Linked DNA regions of Homo sapiens. The protein of the gene in region 1 purifies or fractionates together with the protein of each later gene. This does not show direct contact. Each region holds a gene or a part of one and is shown on either strand. Other genes may lie near its edges.

The links. Proteins that work in one complex are often made in the same cells at the same time.
Region 2: the proteins of MEIOB (region 1) and GAPDHS purify together in Homo sapiens (affinity purification with mass spectrometry; 3 studies listed by BioGRID and IntAct, with this or other methods). This does not show direct contact.

Annotation. Positions count from the first base shown.
Region 1 is NC_000016.10:1,861,161-1,866,490, reverse strand, and holds part of MEIOB (meiosis-specific with OB domain-containing protein), read left to right. Parts: intron 1-655; coding exon 656-713; intron 714-4,374; coding exon 4,375-4,506; intron 4,507-5,330. UniProt on the Homo sapiens protein: Single-stranded DNA-binding protein required for homologous recombination in meiosis I. Required for double strand breaks (DSBs) repair and crossover formation and promotion of faithful and complete synapsis.
Region 2 is NC_000019.10:35,539,226-35,544,555, forward strand, and holds part of GAPDHS (glyceraldehyde-3-phosphate dehydrogenase, testis-specific), read left to right. Parts: intron 1-1,512; exon of another isoform or gene 1,513-2,359; intron 2,360-2,525; exon of another isoform or gene 2,526-2,849; intron 2,850-3,093; coding exon 3,094-3,184; intron 3,185-3,264; coding exon 3,265-3,383; intron 3,384-3,685; exon of another isoform or gene 3,686-3,719; coding exon 3,720-3,801; exon of another isoform or gene 3,802-4,048; intron 4,049-4,114; coding exon 4,115-4,266; intron 4,267-4,439; coding exon 4,440-4,602; intron 4,603-5,330. UniProt on the Homo sapiens protein: May play an important role in regulating the switch between different pathways for energy production during spermiogenesis and in the spermatozoon. Required for sperm motility and male fertility.

The DNA of each region.
Region 1 (5,330 bases):
CCTCAGCCTCCCAGAGTGCTGGGATTACACGTGTGAGCCAACACACCCGGCCCATTTTTATTTCTTAAAACACATTTAAAATTTTTCTTCAGTAGTCACTAAAGAGAACATTAAACATTTTGAGGAGATGTTAATATCTCTAAGTTTTAAGATCTAGGACTTTAGAATTTAGATTTATTAGCAGCAAAATATAAGTTTTGTTACAGTCTAATTTATATTACTGTCCAGCATGTTTGGATTAAGAAGCTAAGTGATTTTATGTGGATTGTTAGAAAACCCTATATAAAGGAAAGCTTTGAAGACTGTGGCAAATTAAATTGCATTATACATGTGCTTTGGATGAATTCAGTAAGGATTGATAGCATAGGGCAGTTATTATGCTCCATCTGGTGATTGAAAATAAAGTAGAAATATGCTAAGTATTAAATGATTATATTTGTAATAGTAGTTAACTTTTGGATTACTTTATACTATTCCTTGTGGAATTGAACATTTATGAACTTCTTTTAGATGTTTGCCTGGAATAAATACATTTAAATGGTTCCTAGTCAGAAATGTTTGTTAGAGCCAGTAAAGTATAACAAGCCCATGAAATTAAATTTATCAAGTACATCTGTGTTTAATATTGGTCTTCTGTGACCTTTTTGTTTTTCAGAAAGTTATCGGTATAGTTATTGGGAAAACAGATGTCAAAGGCTTTCCAGACAGAAAAAGCTGAGTTCTGTTTAACTCTTGGTTTCATTTTTCATCAACTTTGGCTTATGACTACAACAAAGTATATTGAAGTGATTAATTTTTCTATGCCTGTTTAACTCCTTAAGAGCAATGGTCATGCTCTCTATTGGATGGTCAAGTACCTGATTCAAGGCTTTCTCTCTCCCTCCCTCCCACATTCTCTCTCTCTCTCTATATATATGTATACATACACACATATGTGTATATATGTTTATGTGTATACACACACGTGTGTATGTGTGTGCATGTGTATGTGTGTGTATGTGTGTACACGTGTGTGTATATATGTATATTTGAGTACATGTGTTCTCTCTTTTTTTTTTTGAGATGGAGGCTCGCTCTGTCACTCAGGCTGGAGTGCAATGGCACGATCTCGACTCACTGCAACCTCTGCCTCCTGGGTTCAATCGATTCTCCTGCTTCAACCTCCCGAGTAGCTGGAATTACAGGCACATGCCATCATGCCCAGCTAATTTTTGTATTTTTAGTAGAGATGGGGTTTCACCATTTTGGCCAGGCTGGTCTTGAACTCCTGACCTCAAGTGATCTCCCTGCCTCGGCCTCCCAAAGTGCTGGAATTACAGGTGTGAGCCACCATGCCCAGCCCCTGGTTGATTTAAAAAAAACAAAAATTTGTAGAGACAGAGTCTTGCTCTGTTGCCCAGGCTGGTCTCAAACTCCTGGGCTCAAGTGATCATCCCACCTCATCCTCCTAGAGTGATCAGATTACAGGCATGATGCTTTTATCTTTAAGGTAAATAACCAAGCTGTCATCTGGTACCCATATCATTTGTGCCTGCACTTTATTTCATCTTAACTAATTAGATCAGAAATACTAAATAAATAGTTTGAGGAAGTCTATATCTCCTTTTACCAAATTTCAGAAGGCATCACTTAAAATGTGTGAATTAGAAAAAAGTAGTTATTAAAATACTTGCTAAAATTATAAAAATGAAATACACGGTTTTTTGCCAGGCACAGTGGTCACGCCTGTAATCCCAGCAGTTTGGGAGGCTGAGGTGGGCGGATCACCTGAGGTCAGGAGTTTGGGACCAGCCTAACCAACATGTAGAAACCCCCTCTCTACTAAAAATACAAAATTAGTCAGGCATGGTGGCAGGCGCTTGTATTCCCAGCTACTCGGGAGGCTGAGGCAGGAGAATCGCTTGAACCTGGGAGGCGCAGGTTGCAGTGAGCCAAGATCACGCCATTGCACTCCAGCCTGGGCAGCAAGAGTGAAACTCTGTCTCAAAAAAAAAAAAAAAAAAGAAAAGAAAAAGAAATTCACAGTTTTTCACCTATCAGACTGTGAGGGAAGGAGAAAAACTTCTGTGTTGTTTGACTTCTTTTTATGATGACATCTGTGGTATTCCTTTTTTGGAAGAAGTATGCTTACTGACTTAAAACATTGTACATATAACATTATATTTGTATCAAAAATTCCAGCAGTACCAAAGGTCACAGATTTGAAAAGTGAAATTCCCCTTTCAGCTCCTCACTCTTGCCATCCTAGTCCTCTCCCCAGAGGTAAACACTAATAGACAGTTCAGAATATGTCTATAATTTACATGTATGTTGAGTTATATTACTTTTTTTAAAAATTTGAGATAGGGTCTTGCTCTGTCACTCAGCCTGGAGTGCAGCAATGTGAATACAGCTCACTGCAGCCTCAACCCTGGGCTCAAGTGGTCTTCCTGCCTCAGCCTCGCATGTAGCCCAGACAGGTCCATGCTACTATGCCTGAATAATTTTTGGAGTTTTTGTAGAGACAGAGGGTCTCACTTTGTTGCCCAGTCTCGAACTCCTTGGCTGAAGCAATCTTACCCCCTTGGCCTCCCAAGGTGCCGGGATTATAGGCAGGAGCAACTGCGCCCAGCCAGGTTGTAATTTTTAATTAGCAAAACCAATATGAAATTTCTATTTTGGAAAAAAAGTATTTGCTGACCCCTAGTGGTCCTCATTAAGTAGCACATAATTTGTTTTGAAATAACTTATTTTAATTATTTTTAAAATTTATTTTTTTTTTTTTTGAGACAGGGTCTCACTCTGTTCTTCCCCACCTCTACTAAAAAACCTTGTCTCATCAGGCACGGTGGCTCATGCCAGCACTTTGGGAGGCTGAGGCAGGCAGATCACGAGGTCAGGAGTTCGAGACCAGCATGGCCAACATGGTGAAACCCCGTCTCTACTAAAAGTACAAAATTAGCCAGGCATGGTGGCAGGCGCCTGTAGTCCCAGCTACTTGGGAGGGTGAGGCAGGAGAATTGCTTGAACCCAGGAGGCAGAGGTTGCTGTGAGCTGAGATCGCGCCATTGCACTCCAGCCTGGGTAACAAGAGCGAAACTCCGTCTCAAAAACAAACAAAAACGAAACCCGTTTTTACTAAAAAAAAAACAAAAAACAAAAATTAGCCTGGCATGGTGGTGTGCGTCTGTAGCCCCAGCTGCTCAGGAGGCTGAGTCCCAGCTGCTGGGAGGCAGGGGTTGCAGTGAGCCGAGAGATCGCGTCACTGAACTCCAGCCTGGGTGTACATTTCATGAACACCCTGAACTCATTCTTCCCAGGCTGGAGTGCAGTGGTGCATTCAAAGCTCACCGCACACTTAAACTGGGCTCAAGCAACCTTTCCTCCTCAGCCTCCCAAGTAGCTGAGACTAAAGATGAGTGCCACCACTAATTTTAAAATTTTCTGTAGAGATGGTGTCCTTCTATGTTGCCCAGGCTGGTTTTGAACTCCAGGCCTCAAGTGATTCTCCTACCTCACCTCCCAAAGTCCTGGGATCACAGGGGTAAGCTGTTGTGCCTGGCCAATTTTTATTTTTATTTTATTATTATTTATTTATTTATTTTTGAGACAAGAGTTTTTCTCTTGTCACCCAGGCTGGATCTCGGCTCACTGCAACCTCCGCCTCCTGGGTTCAAGCGATTCTCCTGCCTCAGCCTCCCGAGTAGCTGGGATTACAGGCGCCCACCACCACGCCTGGCTAAGTTTTGTATTTTTAGCAGAGACAGGGTTTCACCATGTTGGCCAGACTGGTCTTGAACTAACCTCAGGTGATCCACCCGCCTCGGGCTCCCAAAGTGTTAGGATTACAGGCGTGAGCCATTGCGCCCGGCCTATTTTTACTTTTATTTTTGGGACGGGGTCTTGCTCTGTTGCCCAGGCTGGAGAGCAGTGGGGCAATCACAGTTCGCTGAAGCCTTGAACTTTTGGGCTTAAGCAGTCATTCTGCTTCATCCTCCTAAGTAGCTGGGACTGAAATAACTATTTAGATCTGAATTATGACTTAGGTTGAAACAACAGTAAGAGAGAAAAGGAGAACCTAAGGTAATACCTGGATGGCTCAAGTTTACATGTTTTTCCCTCCAAATACACAGATCACCAGGGAAGGGAGCAAGGGGGCAACCTGTTACCACTTCAGCTTGAAATTCATAGAAGCATGTTATAGAATATACATCTGAAAGAACATTTTGTACTATGTATTTGAGTATTTTTATTATCATAATCAATAGTTATTTGATTAAACAAATAATCATTTGTTTATAATTGAAATGAAACTTTTCATGTAACACTTATCAAAAGGCAGAGAAGCGATTGAAACTCTTCATTTGAAAAATAAAAGCATTGGTTTTCCCTTAGATATTGGATCAGAAAGGTACACTTTCAGCTTCACCATTCGGGATTCACCAGCACATTTTGTAAATGCAGCTTCCTGGGGCAATGAAGATTACATCAAGTCTCTTTCTGACAGCTTTAGGGTTGGTGACTGTGGTAAGTTGGCATTGATTCTTAAACTTTTTCCATCATAGTGTTATTCCTGTGGTATGTTTATGGTAACTATACTGAAGGAGTTGAAATGAGACACAGTTCGTAATTCTCAAGAACTTTATCAGAAAAAGTCAAGTGTTAAGAGTATAATGCAGTGGGGCACGGTGGCTCATGCCTGTAATCCCAACACTTTGGGAGGCTGAGGTGGGTGGATTGCGTGAGTTCAGGAGTTCGAGACCAGCCTGAGCAACATGGCAAGACCCCATTTCTACAAAAAATTAGCTGGGTGTGGTGGCGTGGGCCTGTAGTACCAGCTACTAAGGAGGCTGAAGCAGGAGGGTGGCTTGAGCCCTGGAGGTGGAGGTTGCAGCGAGCCAACATCGTACCTCTGCACTCCAGCCTGAGTCACAGAGTAAGACCCTGTCTCAAAAAAAAAAAAAAAAAAAAAAAAAGACTGCAATGCGAGGCATTCAGAATGTTATTTGAAGCATACAAATGTGATAGTTATATTTTTACTAAATAACCTTACTGTCTTTGGTTTATTACATATTTCAATTTGCACCAACCCATTTTATTGTTATAATTGGTTATCTTTCTATAGACATATAATACAGCCACTGAATATATTTTGATAAAAGTTGACATTTGACCACTGAATAGATTTTGATAAAAACTGATATTTAAATTGTTAATGGGATTTTAAGGAACTTTACTTTTAGTTGAAATACCAAATCTTTTACATCTACTCACCCCAGTATCTCTTTGACAGAACAGCCTCATATAGTAGGAAGAACAGGAGACTTTGAAAACACAGAGGTCTAGATTCA
Region 2 (5,330 bases), on another chromosome or scaffold:
GCATATCAACATGTCCAGAACTCAACTCTTGATTCCCCTTCAACCCACACCTATTCAGCTCCCATTGACCACTGCTGGTCAACTATGCCTGAATTCCAAAGGGAGGAAGGTATAATGAGGCTTGTGCGAACATCCGAACATCCGTTCCCATCATGGCCTGAACCAGTGTTTCAGTTTTACTTTAGAATGCCCTGGGCCGAGAGAAGGGCTACATTCAGTTAGTTGGGGGAGTTTAGAATTTTATTTTTGGCTGACATTCACCTTTCTAATGTAAACTATTAGCGACTCCTGGCTCTGTGGCTGCCTGGGGCTTTTACACATACACACCCACAGGCCCACACACATGCAAATACACACAGGCACACTAGTGAACCCTGTCTGGGCCCAGGCAGGGTCTGCAGCCTCCCCAGCGCCCCTCCCCACAGATCTAATCTCAGCCCTTCTCCTTGTACTTACTGGGGGTAGGGTGAGTGATAAAGGGGCAGGGATGGGTGCAGGAAGTTTGTGGGCAGGGGGCAGAGACTGGAGAGTCAGTGAAAATTGAAGAAAGCTGCTTAACCCAAGTTTGAAATCATGACACTAGAAACAACTCCAGCACCATAGTTATCACGCAGACTTCAACGTGGCCACCACCATTACCGCCACTTGGAGTCATCCCTCTTCCCCACCTAGCTGCCCCCTCCGTCCACGGTCCCGACTCAGGTCTTGCCTTCTCTGGTCACTTGTGCAATGCAGTTCCCCGCCCCTCCAGCCCCCTCTCCATCCCCGCACTGTTGGGCTGCACAAGCCAGGCTGTGTGCCTGCACTCTGCCCTGCACCTCCGCTAGCTAGCTGGGTGACCTTGGGCAAGGAACCAAACTTGCCTGAGCCTCAGTTCCCCGCTGTATCTGATGGGGATGATGAGCAAACCCACCACAGCGGTAGCTGGGAGCACGAATGGAGTGAACATGTGTTTGTGGACACTTAAACGGGCACTTCCCACAAGGCCATGGCCTTGCACGGAGGGCTCTGTCAACTGGTACCACCACTGTTGCTCTGGCATTAGCAGGTACAGGCCCTGATAGCCATTCAGAACTTCCTTTGAATGAATGAATGGAATCCTCAAAACAGCCTGGTGGGCAGGAGGCTGGGGCCCATGACAGCCTTGGGGAGGGCCTGGGGTCTTCTGGGGGCACAGTCTTTGCCTCAGGCCAACTCAGCAATTGTTGCAGAGGAATCGCAAGTGTCCCTAATTTGGAAGGCAGGAAATGGGGGGTATCTGAGAAGAGCTCGTTGGGCCAGATGATGGAAAGTGGACTGACAGAGCAGGAGACAGGAAGAGGATAACCATGCATGTGTGATGGCTTTGCAGGGCAGCCCATTCATTCATTCATTCAGGCAGTGGAAACAGGAGTGCAGACCCGAGGTGGGACCAGCCACCTGCACTCCAGCAGGCTCTCCCTCTCACTCCCCTCCCCTCTGCCCTGACAGCAGTAAAAAAATGCAAAAAATGACAGCGGTAGCACTTCCTCATCGGGTTGTGAAGGTTACATGAGTTTAATGCAGGTAAGGCACTTAGAATATGGGCACAGGACAGGTGTTCAGTAAACACGTATAAAATGGCTAACTAAAAAAAAAACACGAGGCCAGGTGCAGAGGCTCATGCCTGTCATCCCAGCACTTTGGGAGGCTGAAGTGGGGATCACCTGAGGTCAGGAGTTTGAGACCAGCCTGGCCAACAGAGCAAACCCCGTCACCACTAAAAATACAAAAAACAACAACAATAAAAAACTAGCCAGGTGTGGTAGCGCATGCCTGTAACCCCAACTACTCGGGAGGCGGAGGCAGGAGAATCGCTTGAACCCGGAAGGTGGAGGTTGCAGTGAGCCAAAATCGTGCCACTGCACTCCAGCCTGAGTGACAGAGTGAGACTCTGTCTCAAAAACAAAACAAAACAAAACAAAGAAAACCCATGAGGCCAGGCACGGTGGCTCACACCTGTAATCCCAGCACTGTGGGAGGTCAAGGATCACTTGAGCCCAGGGGTTCTAAAGCACCCTGGGCAACAAAAGTGAGACCCCATCTCTACAAAAAAATTTAAAAATTAGCTTGGCATGGTGGTGTGCGCCTGTAGTCCCAGCTACTCGGGAGGCCAAGGCAGGAGGATGGCCGGAGCCAGGAAGATCAAGGCTGCAGTGAGCTCTGATTGCACCACTGCACTCCAGCCTGGGCGACAGAGGAAGACCCTGTCTCAAAACAAACAAACCCCACAAACATTGATTGAACCCCCCATTGAGGGGAGCAGGCTCAATGGCAAAGGAAACAGACCGACACTGGCCAAGAATCACAGAAGCAAAGCACCCGGTTACTCATGATAAACCTGGGAAGGAAGAAAGTGGAACAGTTTATTCACTTAATGCTTGTTTGCTAAAGCCAAGTAGAAAACGGCAATACTAGATGTTTAGTGTGCTTCAAATACAAATGTTTGTCAAAATACCAAGTAAAAACATAAATTTATAAAACAGGAAACCAGAAACCTCCCTTACCTTTCCAATGTAAACCATGAGCCACTGCTGCCCCAAGGCTGCCTCAGGCTTCAGGAGTCCTCCAGGAGCTTTTTCTTTAATGCAGTGTCTGTTTTCAGGGACCCTCCTGGCCTTTGGCAGCCAGCTTCCTATTGCAGGAGCTGAGGGTCTAGGAGGGTTCATGGCGAGGTTGTCAGAGCTGGGAAGCAGAAAGCAGCCGGGCAGGCCTCACAGTCACAGAGTCCACGTCCCGGGCAGCATATGGAGAAAGGGTCTGGGCTGGCTGACAGCAGTCAGCATTGGCGCCTCTGAGGAGGTTGAGGGCTGAGTTGGGGAGGTCACCACCTGTACCCAGGCATAACAGGGGTGGTGCAATCAGCAAAGGGAAAGTGGTCTGAAGTGGGGCAGTGGTGAAAAGCTAGGCCAGCGGGGTGGAGCCCATCTGGAACAAGTAGGTGTGTGGGGTAGGGGACGCAGGTGGTTGCAGGTGGGCCGGTACCTGCTCAGCCTGTCAAATGGTGAAAGCCATGGACTATGAAGGTGGGGCTCAAGCAGGGGAGACTGACTCAGCCCTGCCACTTCCCCACAGCAAAGAGCCCAAACAGATCCCCTGGAGGGCTGTCGGGAGCCCCTACGTGGTGGAGTCCACAGGCGTGTACCTCTCCATACAGGCAGCTTCGGTAAGCTGGGGAGAGGTGCCCAGGGCTAGCTGGGGGGATGATGGTGCCAGAAGCCCCTGACACCTGCGCTTCCTCCCCAGGACCACATCTCTGCAGGTGCTCAACGTGTGGTCATCTCCGCGCCCTCACCGGATGCACCAATGTTCGTCATGGGTGTCAATGAAAATGACTATAACCCTGGCTCCATGAACATTGTGAGGTAATGTGGGCAGTGACATCCTGCAATGTGTGGAAGGGAGGGTAGACTCGTCCTCCCCACCCTCAGCCCCACTGGATTCCTGGTCGCTTGGCTTCTGCTTCTCCTTCCCGAAACTATCTGCTAAAAACGCATGACTTCCAGAGGACAAGCTTGGGGAGCCTCCCCAGCTGCACCTCAGTGCCTCCTTCAGTCTGACAGTGTCCCCACAGATCCCTCTCACCCTCATCCTGACGTTTCATAAAACCAAGTCTGCGTGCATACCCCAAGAGGGGTAAGGGTGGAGGGGTGGCTCTGCGACTCACCTCACAGTGTCCGTGCACACCTTGGCTGTTTCAGCAACGCGTCCTGCACCACCAACTGTTTGGCTCCCCTCGCCAAAGTCATCCACGAGCGATTTGGGATCGTGGAAGGGTTGATGGTGAGTTGAGGATGAGGGGCTGGGGCAGGAAGGATGGCAGGGAAACCCAACTTCTTCCCGGGCCTTGCTTACTGTATGGAGTTAAGAGGGAGAGACTGGTTTCGGGAGGAGAGGCCCACCAGTGCAGAAGTCACTTAAAACACTGTGCAACCCTCAGGCAAGGCTGGACCCTGGCCTGCACACATCCCCTCCTGTGGTCTGTGGTGGTGGCCCCACCAGCCTCCACACCTAGGCCACCAACTTAGTCCTGGAAAAAAGAGGCATGGGAGCTTAGGAGCATGAAGGCCTCATCTTGGTCCTTCTCTTCCCCAAGACCACAGTCCATTCCTACACGGCCACCCAGAAGACAGTGGACGGGCCATCAAGGAAGGCCTGGCGAGATGGGCGGGGTGCCCACCAGAACATCATCCCAGCCTCCACTGGGGCTGCGAAAGCTGTGACCAAAGTCATCCCAGAGCTCAAAGGGTATGAGGACAAGAAGCTGCAACCAGGGTGGGGGCATACGCCAGGAGGACTGGACTGGCCCGGCCCTCAGTCCTTAAGAGGAAAGCAGGGGCCTGGCCCAGCCACAGGGAAAGGGGGAATGGAGGGCAACGTCCCTAAGTTCTGACTCCTGTTCCTCATGGGGGATTCTCCAGGAAGCTGACAGGGATGGCGTTCCGGGTACCAACCCCGGATGTGTCTGTCGTGGACCTGACCTGCCGCCTCGCCCAGCCTGCCCCCTACTCAGCCATCAAGGAGGCTGTAAAAGCAGCAGCCAAGGGGCCCATGGCTGGCATCCTTGCCTACACCGAGGATGAGGTAGGGGCTGAGGAGAGGAGACCCTGGGAGGAGCCCTCTGGGAAGGGACATGATTTCCACTTGCCAGGGAGCTGCTCTCAATGTGCCAAGTCAGAAACTGCAGGGCAGGAAGGGAGATCTCCCTGCCTCAGGGCCTTTGCACTTGCTGTTCCTTTAGTCTGGAATGCTTCCCTTGCCAGGTGACCATACAGTCTGTCCTTACTTCCTCCAAGTCTCTGGAGGAACCTCCCTCTTCAGCAAGGCACCCCCTCAAAATATGTTCTTTTTGTGGCCATATTCCTCACCTGAAATTTCATTTCATAGTCACTGTTGGCCCCAGTGGTGTGTGCACTCCAAGAAAACAGGGATTTAGGGGCTGCCTTTTCACTTTTGTGGCTCCAACCTGGCATACAGCAGGTGACTAATACATGCTTAGTGAACAAAAGACAACAGCTCCCATTTTTTTCAATACTTGCTCAGGGCCAGGCCATGGCCAGATGCCTTCTCTGTGAGGAGTGGATGCCATGGTCATGGTGGACCCCTGTACATCCACCTTGGTGCTGTCTCCCTGCATTAACTCCTGCAGGTCCACTTTCCCACAGTCACTGGGATCTTTTGTTTTAATGGAATCACATTGCATCACCCGTTTTCAGGATTGAAAACACTCCTGTGGCCTTTCATGACACTAGGGCTAAAACCCTCAGGTCCTCCCTTCCTGCAGCTCCTTCTACCTCAGACACTGTGCTGAG